Homo sapiens: one gene and its partners. The protein of the gene in region 3 purifies or fractionates together with the protein of the main gene of each other region. This does not show direct contact. Each region holds a gene or a part of one and is shown on either strand. Other genes may lie near its edges.

Region 1 (3,648 bases), on a different chromosome or scaffold from region 3:
CACTCCAGCCTGGGCGACAGAGTGAGACTCCGCCTCAAAACAAAAACAAACAAAAAACAACAACAACAAAAGGGCGGTGGCTCACGCCTGTAATTGCCTGTAATCTCAGCACTTTGGGAGGCTGAGGTGGGTGGATCACCTGAGGTCATGAGTTCGAGACCAGCCAGGCCAACATGGTGAAACCCTACCTCTACTAAAAATACAAAAATTAGCCGGGCATGGTGGCACGTGCCTGTAATCCCAGCTACTCGGGAGGCTGGGGCAGGAGAATCACTTGAACCCGGGAGGCAGAGGTTGCAGTAAGCTGAGATCGTGCCACTGCACTCCAACCTGGGCGACACAATGAGACTCCATCTCAAAAAAAAAAAGAAAAACATCACTTCCTCAGGGGACCACCTGCCTTGTCCCAGACACAGTCTGGTGCCATCACGGGCTGTTTCCCATTGGAGAATGGGCTTGTGGACAGACAGCACATCTGTCTTGGTTACGAAAGGACCCTCTCAGATCTTAGCACATAGTAAGTGCTCAATAAGTGTGTGTGTTGGACCAGGAATGAAGTACAGAGAATACATTTCTCTGCTTGGGGTGCCTTCAAGAGAATATCCTGCATGACAGACTGGCTGCCTTTCGCCCCCTTGGGGAAGCTGGCAGAATGGCATGTTCTGGAAGGCAAGTGTGGCCCTGGAGTCCCGGAGATAGACATGGTCCTTTCCCCATGGAGCTGGCCGTTCAGCAGAGGAAATGAGTATGAAATATGCAAGCACCCAATGATCACTTAATTGTTTCATTTTTGTTTCTTTCTTCCTTTTTTGAGATGGAGTCTCACTCTGTCACCAGGCTGGAGTGCAGTGGCGCAATCTTGGCTCACTGCAACCTCTGCCTCCTGGGTTCAAGTGATTCTCCTGTCTCAGCCTCCCAAGTAGCTGGGACTACAGGAACACGCCACCATGCCCAGCTAATTTTTGTATTTTCAGTAGAGACAGGGTTTCACCATGTTGGCCAGGATGGTCTCGATCTCCTGACCTCGTGATCCACCTGCCTTGGCCTCCCAAAGTGCTGGGATTACAGGCGTGAGCCACCGTGCCTGGCCCTTTCTTTTTTTTTTTTTTTTTGAGATGGAGTCTCGCTCTGTCGCCCAGGCTGGAGTACAGTGGCGCGATCTGGGCTCACTGCAAGCTCTGCCTCCTGGGTTCACGCCATTCTCCTGCCTCAGCCTCCTGAGCAGCTGGGACTACAGGCACCCGCCACCACGCCCACCTAATTTTTTGTATTTTTAGTAGAGATGGGGTTTCACTGTTTTAGCCAGGATGGTCTCGATCTCCTGACCTCGTGATCCGCCCACCTCGGCCTCCCAAAGTGCTGGGATTACAGGCGTGAGCCACCACGCCTGGCCTTTTTTTTTTTTTTTTTTTTTTTTTGAGATGGAGTCTGGCTCTGTTGCCCAGGCTAGAGTGCAGTGGCGCAATCTCAGCTGACTGCAACCTCCGCCTCCCAGGTTCACATGATTCTCCTTGCCTCAGCCTCCCAAGTAGCTGGGATTACAGGTGTCCGCCACCACACCCTGCTAATTTTTTTGTATTTTTAGTAGAGACGGGGTTTCACTATGTTGGCCAGGCTGATCTCGAATTCCTGACCTCGTGATCTGCCTGCCTCAGCCTCCTAAAGTGCTGGGATGACAGTTGTGAGTCACCGCGCCTGGCCGCCTAATTGTATTTCTACCGAGGGGTAAGAAGAATGGTCGGACCTGGGGTCCTGTAAGTAGCAGGCACAGACCCTGTCTAGGGAGTCAGGGAAGGCTTCCCAGAGGAGGTGACCTTTAGGTTAAGTCAAAGGAGAGAAGGTGAGAACCCAGGGGAAGAGGTGGCGAGGGTGTGTTTTGACCCTAAAGGGAACAAGCAGTCACAGAAGAAATTTGATTGGTGTGTGATGAGGCCTGATGGCATTTGGAGGTGTAATCCTTTCCCCACTGGAGTCAGGAGTGTGGAGGCACAGACCTGTGCTGTCGAAGTTAATCTGGGCCCAGCAGGATTCTCGATCTCTGCAAAGGAATTCAGGAGAAAGTGACAGGGATCAGGGTTGCCCCTTGAGTCAGGAGGCTTGATCGGGAAAGCCCTGGCCCCAAACCACACCCAAAATGTAGCCTTTGCTCCCCACCCACTGACCCATGGGTCTTCCCCACAGAAGAGCAGTAACATCCTGATTTCTGGAGCTGTCACACTGTGGGACAGCCCCTTGGCCGGGGGAAGAAAAAAACATGGAAATTCTCTTGGGCCAGGCGCAGTGGCTCACGCCTGTAATCCCAGCACTTTGGGAGGCTGAGGCAGGTGGATCACTTGAGGTCAGGAGTTCAAGACCAGACTGGACAACACAGTGAAACCCCGTCTCTACTAAAAAATACAAAAATTAGCCAGGTGTGGTGGCATGTGCCTGTAGTCCCAGCTACTCAGGAGTCTGAGGCAGGAGAATCGCTTGAACCCAGGAGGCGGAGGTTGCAGTGAGCCGAGATTGCGCCACTGTACTCCAGCCTGGGCGACAGAGTGAGACTCCGTCTAAAAAAAAAAAAAAAAATATATATATATATATATATATATATATATATATATACACACACACACACACACATACATACACACACACACATACATACACACACACACATATACACACACACATACACACACACACACACACACACACACACACACACATATATAAAAGCCAGGCACGGTGGCTGATGCCTGTAATCCCAGCACTTTGGGAGGCACAGGCGGGCGGATCACCTGAGGTTGGGAGTTCAAGACCACCCGGACCAACATGGAGAAATCCCGTCTCTACTAAAAATACAAAATTAGCCGGGTGTGGTGGCACATGCCTGTAATCCCAGCTGCTCAGGAGGCTGAGGCAGGAGAACTGCTTGAACGCAGGAGGCAGAGGTTGCGGTGAGCCAGAGATCAGGCCATTGCACTCCAGCCTGGGCAACAAGAGTGAAACTCCATCTCAAAAAAAAAAAAAAAAACATATATATATTCTCCTGGTTAGGAGGCCCACAGCCAGGTGAAGCTGGGATTCAATCCCCAGAGCAGGTTTTCATCTCCAGGCAGCAGGATGTCTCCCCACTCTCGGAGGAGAGAAACTGAGGCCAGGGCCAGTTAGGACATCCTGGTGCCCAGGAACCTGGGCCATCACCTACAGTGCAATTGGGCACTGCACAACCCCAGGGGCATTCTTTAGAAACTGACTGTGGGTGTCTAGAGTGATTGTGACCGTTTTCTGGCAGCTGGAGGTAAAGGGGTGTGGGGAAGGGCCTCTCCCTGGGCAAACTGCTCACTCTGTGACTGAGTGCTGAGCCTCAGTCCTCTCTTCTGTAAAATAGGGCTATTCATGGTGCCTGTTTCCAGGGCTGCCATAAGGATAAGGAGCTCCAGCTTCAGAGAGTCCCAGCTCAGTCCTCCAGCACACAGGAGGCACTTAATAAATGGCTCCTGTTCCTATTACGCAGCATGCCCACCAGGAGGCGCTGTTTGTGGGGGGCATGGAGTGCCCACCCTGCCAGGGAAGTGTCCTTCTTTCCCCAAACCACCCTCTGTGGGTCTCCAGGGATGATCTCACCTTTTCTTCTGTAAATTTCTGAGTTTAACTGGAACAAAA
Region 2 (4,421 bases), on a different chromosome or scaffold from region 3:
CTGCGCCGAGCCCTGTCTGGTCCATGCCAGCTGTGGAGCCTGACCCTGTCCGTGGCAGAGCTAGGCCTGGGCTACGCCTCAGAGGAGAAGGTCATCTTCCGCTACTGCGCCGGCAGCTGCCCCCGTGGTGCCCGCACCCAGCATGGCCTGGCGCTGGCCCGGCTGCAGGGCCAGGGCCGAGCCCACGGCGGGCCCTGCTGCCGGCCCACTCGCTACACCGACGTGGCCTTCCTCGATGACCGCCACCGCTGGCAGCGGCTGCCCCAGCTCTCGGCGGCTGCCTGCGGCTGTGGTGGCTGAGGGTGCCCGGCCTGGCACCCAGAAGCTGCAGTGCTGGGGGAGCTCGGCTGACTTATTTATTGGAGACCTGGATGCAGAGACAACGAGGAGGGGAGTGGGCTGGGGCGACCAGCAGTGAGTGCAATAAAGGACACCACTCTCCCGGCCTTGTGACTTTGACCATGTGTCCAGCCAGCCACACCTGGAGCTCCCTATGGGCCAGTGCCATCCTGGGTTCCCCTGCAAATCCCGGCCCCAGCAAGCAGCCACTGCAATGTCCCAGTTAGGCTGTCCATTCCCCAACTTTATTCACAAATCTGGTGTCTGTAGAAAGCTGGGGGTCAGCAGGCTGGGGGCGGCTGTCCAGACTCCCCTGGCCCCATGCCCTCAGGGAGGGAGCGGCAGATCACGGAGATGCGCCGGCCCCGGGGAATCCGGCGTTCCCCAAAGAAGGACTCTTCATCCCGAAGGATCTCATGGGAGAAGTCATAACGGGCTGAGCCCCTGCAGGAAGAAACAGGCTGTGACTGGGTGCAAGGAGGGCAGCCCCTGCTCCAGGCAGACCTGGATTCCAGCCTCCTGGATTCCAGCCCCCTGCTGCCTCCCACACAGACCCTGGGGTAAAGGCGTCTTCGGGGAGGGCTGGATTGAGGGAAAGTACCCAGGGCACAGGGTGGGCGGATGGCACATTCTTGGAGGGGTGGGTGCTGCCTGGATGGAGGTACCTAAGGATGTAGAGGGAGCCCGGCTCCAGCAAGAGTTCCAGCCACTCCCCCGGCTCCTGGGTGTGCACCAGCCGCATAACGCTGGGAGACAGGAGAGACAGGCCGGCGATGGTGGCCCCGCAGAACTGCAAAAGAGGCGTGGGGATGGGTCAGGATCTAACCGGGCCTGCCTACCCCCTGGCTGGGAGTGCCAAGGCACCGTCCTCTGCCCACCTTGATGCTGTCCACGTGGGGCTTGATGTAGCCGCGGGCTTCCAGGTCCAGCACGTGCACGGAGGAGAGCAGGGTCTGGCCGGGGCCAAAGGCGGCCGCCTGCACGCGCTGCAGGATGGCCCGGCTGGCTTCTGACCAGCGCGACTTCTCTGTCTCTCGGAAGCCGTGGATGGCCTGCACAGAGAGCTCGGTTAAGCCTGGGAGCTCCCAGAGGGAACAAGGAAACTGAGGCAAGGAGGGGCAGAAAACGGCAAGGGGCTGGTTTCCCTATGTGACTCTTGACCCTGCCCTCAACTCAAACTCCCCTAGCCCCTCAACTATGGCCCTACCTAGGTGTGACCTCAGTCCTTAGTACTCACCCTGAGGCTACAATTCCAGGTCCCCAATGCTGGCCCGGCCCCAGCATTCAATTGGCTGAATCTCCCTACAACTTGACCCCACCCAAGTGTCCTGTCTCTGTCTCTCAACATCATCTGGCTCCACATCCGTTTCCGCCCCTAACCTTGGTCCCAGGTCGCAAAAGTGCTCTCCCTGACCCCAAGGTCCTCATCCCCCAGGTCCCGCCCCTCCCACAGCCAGAGTTTCAGCCCAGCCCCCACCATAGCCCAGCTCCCAAATCCCTGCAATAGCTACCGACCCCAAAAAGGCCCTGCCCCATCCCAGCATGTGTCTCCCCTATCTCCGCCCCCAGCGTGGTTCTGCCCTCTCTAAACCTCGACTTCCCCGTCCCCCCCACAGCATGGCCCCAACCCATCCCGGCGCTTGACTCCACGGACCCCGCCCCAAGCTTGGCCCCGCCCCATCCATGCGCTCGACGACCTGACCACGCCCCAATCCCAGCCGCCACGTTCTTCTGCACTGTAACTGCTAGCAGCGTAATCGCACCCCAACCCTACACCCGACTCCCTGGCCCCACCCCCACGCTCGACTGCGCTGTAACCGCCCCCAAGCGTGGCCACGCCCCATCCCAGCACTGGTCCCCACTGTCCCCGCCCCCAGCGTGGCCACGCCCCGTCCCTACGCTCGCCTCCTGTCCCGCCCCCAGAGTGCCCCCGCCCCATCCCTGCGCTGTCTCCTTTGTCCCCGCCCCAGCGTGGCCCCGCCCCATCCCTGCGCCCGACCCCCCTGGCCCCACAACCCCAGCACCGTAGCCCCGCCCCCACGCTAAACGGTACTGTAACCGCCCCCAGTGTGGCCCTGCCCGGTCCCGGCGCTCGTCTCCTCTGTCCCCGCTCCAAATCCCCGCTCTAGGTACCGCCCCCAGCGTGTCCCCGCCCCATCTGATGCTCCACGTCCCCAGGCCGCGCCCCCGACGAGCCCCCGTCCCTCGCCCCCGGCGCTGCCGGTCTCACCGCGTCCCAGTGATCGTATTCGTAGCGGCGGCGGCGCAGCTCGGGCTCCAGTTCTCGGCTCAGCGTCTCCTCCTCTGCCGTGCTCAGGAAGCCAGGCCGCACCACGGCCGCGTCCTGCAGGCGGCTCAGCACGGAAGGGCCCGAGCCTCGCACCCAGCTGGGCCCTGGCAGCGTCCGCAGCGCCAGCAGCCCAGTCCCGGCCATAATCCCGGAGCGGGGTCATGAGAGAGGGCAGGGTTGGGGAACGCCCCCGCCAAAAGCCATTGGCGGTACCTGCGGCAGCGATTGACTTCCCTCAGAGTCCCGCCTCTCGCTCATAGCTATTGGTTGCTGCTAGACTCGCCTTCACAGGCTATTGGCCTTTTTCCAGAACCCGCCTCCTCTCTTGAGCTTATTGGGCGCCACCTCCCGCCTGACTTACACCAGTGGCTGAGTCGCAAGTCCGTCTGCAGCTTAGCACCGCCTCTTTAATCATTAGAAAACGTACACCCTAGGGGTTGCCTGGCCAAGACTTCATAAGGGGATATGGGCAGTATCTGGTCTGAAGTCCGGAAGTCAGGGGGACTGGGGCCAAGGCCACGGTTATGGAGTCGACTAGGGCTAGAGGTTAAGGGCAGAGTACAGTCAGGCCGAGATAAGGGTCCGGGGTCAGGGGACTGACGTCAAGGCCACGATTATGTGTGTGGTGGGGCCAGCTATCCAGAGTTAGGGCTTATGGTCAAAGGTCAGAGCGAGGTATCATTCATTTCCCCGTCTCCGTATCACTATTACTTTAGGTTTGAAAATGGCATTATGGTTGTCTTTTTGATTCCTCGGCCGGGCGTGGTGGCTCACGCCTGTAATCCCAGCACTTCGGGAGGCCGAGGCGGGTGGATCACCTGAGGTCAGGAGTTCGAGACCAGCCTGGCCAGCATGGTGAAAACCCGTCTCTACTGAAAATACAAAAAATGAGCCGAGCTTGGTGGCGCGCGTGCCTGTAATCCCAGCGACTCAGGAGGCTGAGGCAGGAGAATTGCTTGAACCCAGGAGGCGGAGGTTGCAGTGAACAGAGATCCCGCCACTGCACTCCAGCCTGGGCGACACAGCAAAACATTGTCTCAAAAAAAAAAAAAAGAGTCATCGTTTTTTACAAACGCAAACTGAAAAAAAAATATTTACAGAAAAAAGATCTCTGGGATTTGCTTCCACATAAATCCAGGCTGTGGGGGCAGGGAGGGGGCGGGTAGGGAAGAATCATCTTTGACCGTGAATTAATTGTTGAATTGGTGTGATAAGTACGTGGGGTCTCATTACCCTGTTTTCTCTACTTTTGTTTATATTTATTTTTATTTGTTTATTTTTGAGACAGAGTCTCACTCTGTCGCCCAACCTGGAGCGCAGTGGCACGATCTCAGGCCCTGAAGATTTGCAACCGCTGCCTCTGGGGTTTAAGTGATTCTCATGCCTCAGCCTCCCGAGTAGCTGGGATTACAGGCAACGAACCATCATGCCCAGCTTTTTTGTTTTGTTTGTTTTTGAGACCGAATTTCGCTCTTGTCACTCAGGCTGGAGTGCAATGGTGCGGTCTTGGCTCACTGCAACCTCTGCCTTCCGGGTTCAAGCGATTCTCCTGCCTCAGCCTCCCGAGTAGCTGGGATTACGGGAAGCTGCCACCACGCCCAACTAATTTTTGTTTTTTATTTTTTTGGTTTTTGGGTTTTTTTTTTTTTGACACACAGTCTCGCTCTGTCACCCAGGCTGAAGTGCAGTGGCGGGATCTTGGCTCACTGCAAGCTCTGCCTCCCGGGTTCACACCATTCTCCTGCCTCAGCCTCCCGAGTAGCTGGGACTACAGGCGCCTGCCACCACGCCC
Region 3 (3,215 bases):
AATATGTAACACTGTAGAAATAACAGCCCACTCTTACTTGTCATGTCCTCCTGACAAGCAAGTAGATTCCACACAAATCACCGGAACTGAAACCCTGGAGCAAACAGCCTCTCCTCTTCCCATCCACCCTCATCTACACAGGCAGGAAGAAGATGAGGGTGCATTCCCCAAAAGGCTTGTAAATTAGAGTCCCTCAAACTGCCTAACCAAAATGCTAAATTTCCCAGTTTCTTTTCCAACAAGAAAAGAAACATGAATTTGGATGTCAACTCTTAACAATCTGGGGTTCTTAAAATTTCTTTCAAAACCATATATAAATAGTCTTTCATGCCTCTGGCAAAATGGCCACCCTTGGGGAAAAGGAAAATAATATTTATAGTAGAAATAAAATGTGATGAGATTTTGTTAAGATCTTCTGCTGGCTCACTCAAAAGACTACTGCTTCTCCGTTCAAGCTGCCACAGTACATCTATGCTAGCAGGGGAAAAAAATTTCATTGGCTCAATGATAAGATAATATCAGTAAGCAATTTATTAAAGAGTCTGCCATCCATCATAGGAATCTGGAACAGTAATGATGCACTGAAAATAAGTATTCACCCCAGGTTTCTTTTCCTCCTCCCAAATTCCTTCAATATCAATATCTCTTTGGTAAATTGTTAATAGTATTTTGCTCTTTGTCCTTTTGGAAACAAGCCCAGGAATGAGAAGACACCAACAGCAGCTGTCACAAACTCAACGGTACTTATCGCTCGGTTGGCCTATAAGGAAACAAGAAGTAAACAAAAAACACATCATATTCTAAAGACATCTGTGTCCTAAATGAAGCTTTAGCCTGTTTCCTAAACTGAACACCTGTTTTAATGTACAATGGATACATCTAAAGTACAATGCAAAATTAAAATTCTGCATAAAGATGAAGAAATAAATTTATAATTTGTATAATTATGTCAAAGATGTAGATACGTACACATGGGTATATATTCCTCATATTTTTAAAGCACTCTGACAGTTTATAAACTAATTATGAACACAGTTCCCATTCATCATAATAGTACACTGGTGAAAGAGGTTAATATACCACTCTTGTTTTGCAAAACTTGGGATATCATAAGTAGTTTGCCTGAGATCATTCCACGAAGATGTTTAAAGATAGGCTGAGTCTTCTGAAACACACGTTCTTCTCCTATGCAGCTCCTGCCCCTTAAATAAACACTTTGGATTGGTTGGGTCTACACCAAAGTAAGTATCGTGTAAGAGTGTGTGTGTGTGTGTGTGTGTGTGTGTGTGTGTGTTTCAGGGATGTCAAATAGCAAATAATTCAGGGATGTCATCTGAGCTAAATACACATAAGCTCTTATTTGGTAGACACAATTTCTTTTCTGATAAACAAATTTCAAAAAAAGCCAATACTGATGTTAACTATCATGTCAAAAATTAATTTCTCATGTAGACAAACCACTCTCAAGATCAACTGTCCATAAAGGAATTCAGACATTTATAGCTTTAAGGGTATTAATCATCATGATGATGAGAGAACTAATGAATATTCATGGTATTCTTGGCACTCAACTAATATTGCCTTCCATTCAAATGGGTTTGAGTGCAATTTGATGACCCAAAGGTCACATTCGGACACTTCAGAATTATCAAGTACTCTGAAAACATATTTGTTCTCTCTGGGATTGAAGAATCAGGTCTTTCAAATAAAGCAAAATATTTTTCCCAAATGACTCTGGGGAACCAGTCTAAGAGCTGGAAAGCCTAACCCAGGTCATATTTGAGCATGCCCTCTGTCTAACCACAGCCTTCCACCGTGGAACCTGCCACCCACGTATTACTGCAACACAATGCTACCTCCCTAACTGCAGCTTCCCTGTTAGGAACAGGCACAAGGGCCAGGGCCAGGAAAGAGGGACACAACAGAAGTCTTGGCTCCATGTGTTTGCAGCATGTGTTCATTCCACTACACCATCCTGTGGTGGGCAGAGACTAGGCCTGTAATTGTGGCCCACTGTCTCTGCTCCAACCCCCAGATGCCAGGGAGAATGGTAAGGGCAAACAACTTGGCACTAACCCTGAAAAATCCTGTTTTACTTTATAATTTTGATTTTATTTGATTTCTTATCTATTTTATTTATATTTTAATCCTTACCTAAACTATTTCCTAAGAGATAATCAGAATTCACTGTAGCACAGAGCCACCCATATGCCATATTGGGGGAGCGGGGGAGAAGAGGCAGGGAGATGCAGGATATAAGATAAAATCCCAAAGAAGAGGAAGAGTCACTAATTAGACAGGGATCAAGCCCAACCCTAGTACAATTCCAGCAGATAGTGAGATCCCAAGAAGGTCTAATAGAGAGAAATGGGGTAGTCAATAAAAAAAAAATGAAGGTGCAATCAGTGTCTTTAAACAGAGGTGTCAAATGGTAGCAGGGTACGGCCCTTGGAAAATGGCAGGATCCTATAGATGGTGTGGCCCCAGCTAGATGCAGACCTAACTGACTAGGTATCTTTCAGCCACTAGAAACACAAGATGTTAATGAAAGCTGACAAATTTAAGAGGCCTGGTTGGGGGATGGGCAACCTGATCCCAAACCAAAATCCCTAGAGATGACAAAGGCCAGATATCATGATCATAAAGCCACTTTAAGCAGTGCCACTTTAAGACAGCTTCCCCAATTCCAAATGTTCATTTATTTCAAGTCTCATTCTAGATAATGAATCTCATGTAATTGGGACAACCCACTGGAGTTAGGAGTAATGGGATGTGATGTGCAAGATTACAACATCTCAGGATGTTCTTGGTGAACCAACATGAACAAGAACTTTTACTTCACGGCTTACTTTGGATTATAAGGTCACCAAATCCAACTCTGCATTCTTTATCCTTTAGAGGGCTTTCTGTCCATGGGCCATAATAAAGGCCTCGTTCTGGGGATCTGTACCTGGCCTAATGAAACATTAGCTGAACCTGGAGTGGCTGTGTCTAGACAGCAGTATAGCGGGGACACAGACGTGTGGCAGGTTTATCAAAACGCTCTTTCCTAAGGCCTCGTAAGGCTGCAGTCATATGCACCGAAGCACCATCAGGATGTGTTCCTGTGTTGCCTTGTCCAGGCCTACTGAAGAGTGTGGGCCATCTTTGACAAAGATAGAGATATTTTCATAATTTGGTCTATGAGAGTAAAGTATGTTCTTAGAAATTTTGAA

The links.
Region 1: the proteins of PLAAT1 (region 3) and C19orf38 purify together in Homo sapiens (affinity purification with mass spectrometry; one large-scale study listed by BioGRID and IntAct). This does not show direct contact.
Region 2: the proteins of PLAAT1 (region 3) and ALKBH7 purify together in Homo sapiens (affinity purification with mass spectrometry; one large-scale study listed by BioGRID and IntAct). This does not show direct contact.

The regions. Positions count from the first base shown.
Region 1 is NC_000019.10:10,858,305-10,861,952, reverse strand, and holds part of C19orf38 (protein HIDE1 precursor), read right to left. Parts: intron 3,638-3,648; coding exon 3,610-3,637; intron 2,039-3,609; coding exon 1,995-2,038; intron 1-1,994.
Region 2 is NC_000019.10:6,371,173-6,375,593, reverse strand, and holds ALKBH7 (alpha-ketoglutarate-dependent dioxygenase alkB homolog 7, mitochondrial precursor), read right to left. Parts: upstream 2,801-4,421; 5' UTR 2,774-2,800; coding exon 2,570-2,773; intron 1,790-2,569; exon of another isoform or gene 1,703-1,789; coding exon of another isoform or gene 1,577-1,702; intron 1,392-1,576; coding exon 1,218-1,391; intron 1,130-1,217; coding exon 1,005-1,129; intron 784-1,004; coding exon 621-783; 3' UTR 344-620; downstream 1-343. Other genes in the region: PSPN (persephin preproprotein), read left to right, coding at 1-300.
Region 3 is NC_000003.12:193,268,149-193,271,363, reverse strand, and holds the end of PLAAT1 (phospholipase A and acyltransferase 1), read right to left. Parts: intron 761-3,215; coding exon 659-760; 3' UTR 509-658; downstream 1-508. UniProt on the Homo sapiens protein: Exhibits both phospholipase A1/2 and acyltransferase activities. Shows phospholipase A1 (PLA1) and A2 (PLA2) activity, catalyzing the calcium-independent release of fatty acids from the sn-1 or sn-2 position of glycerophospholipids.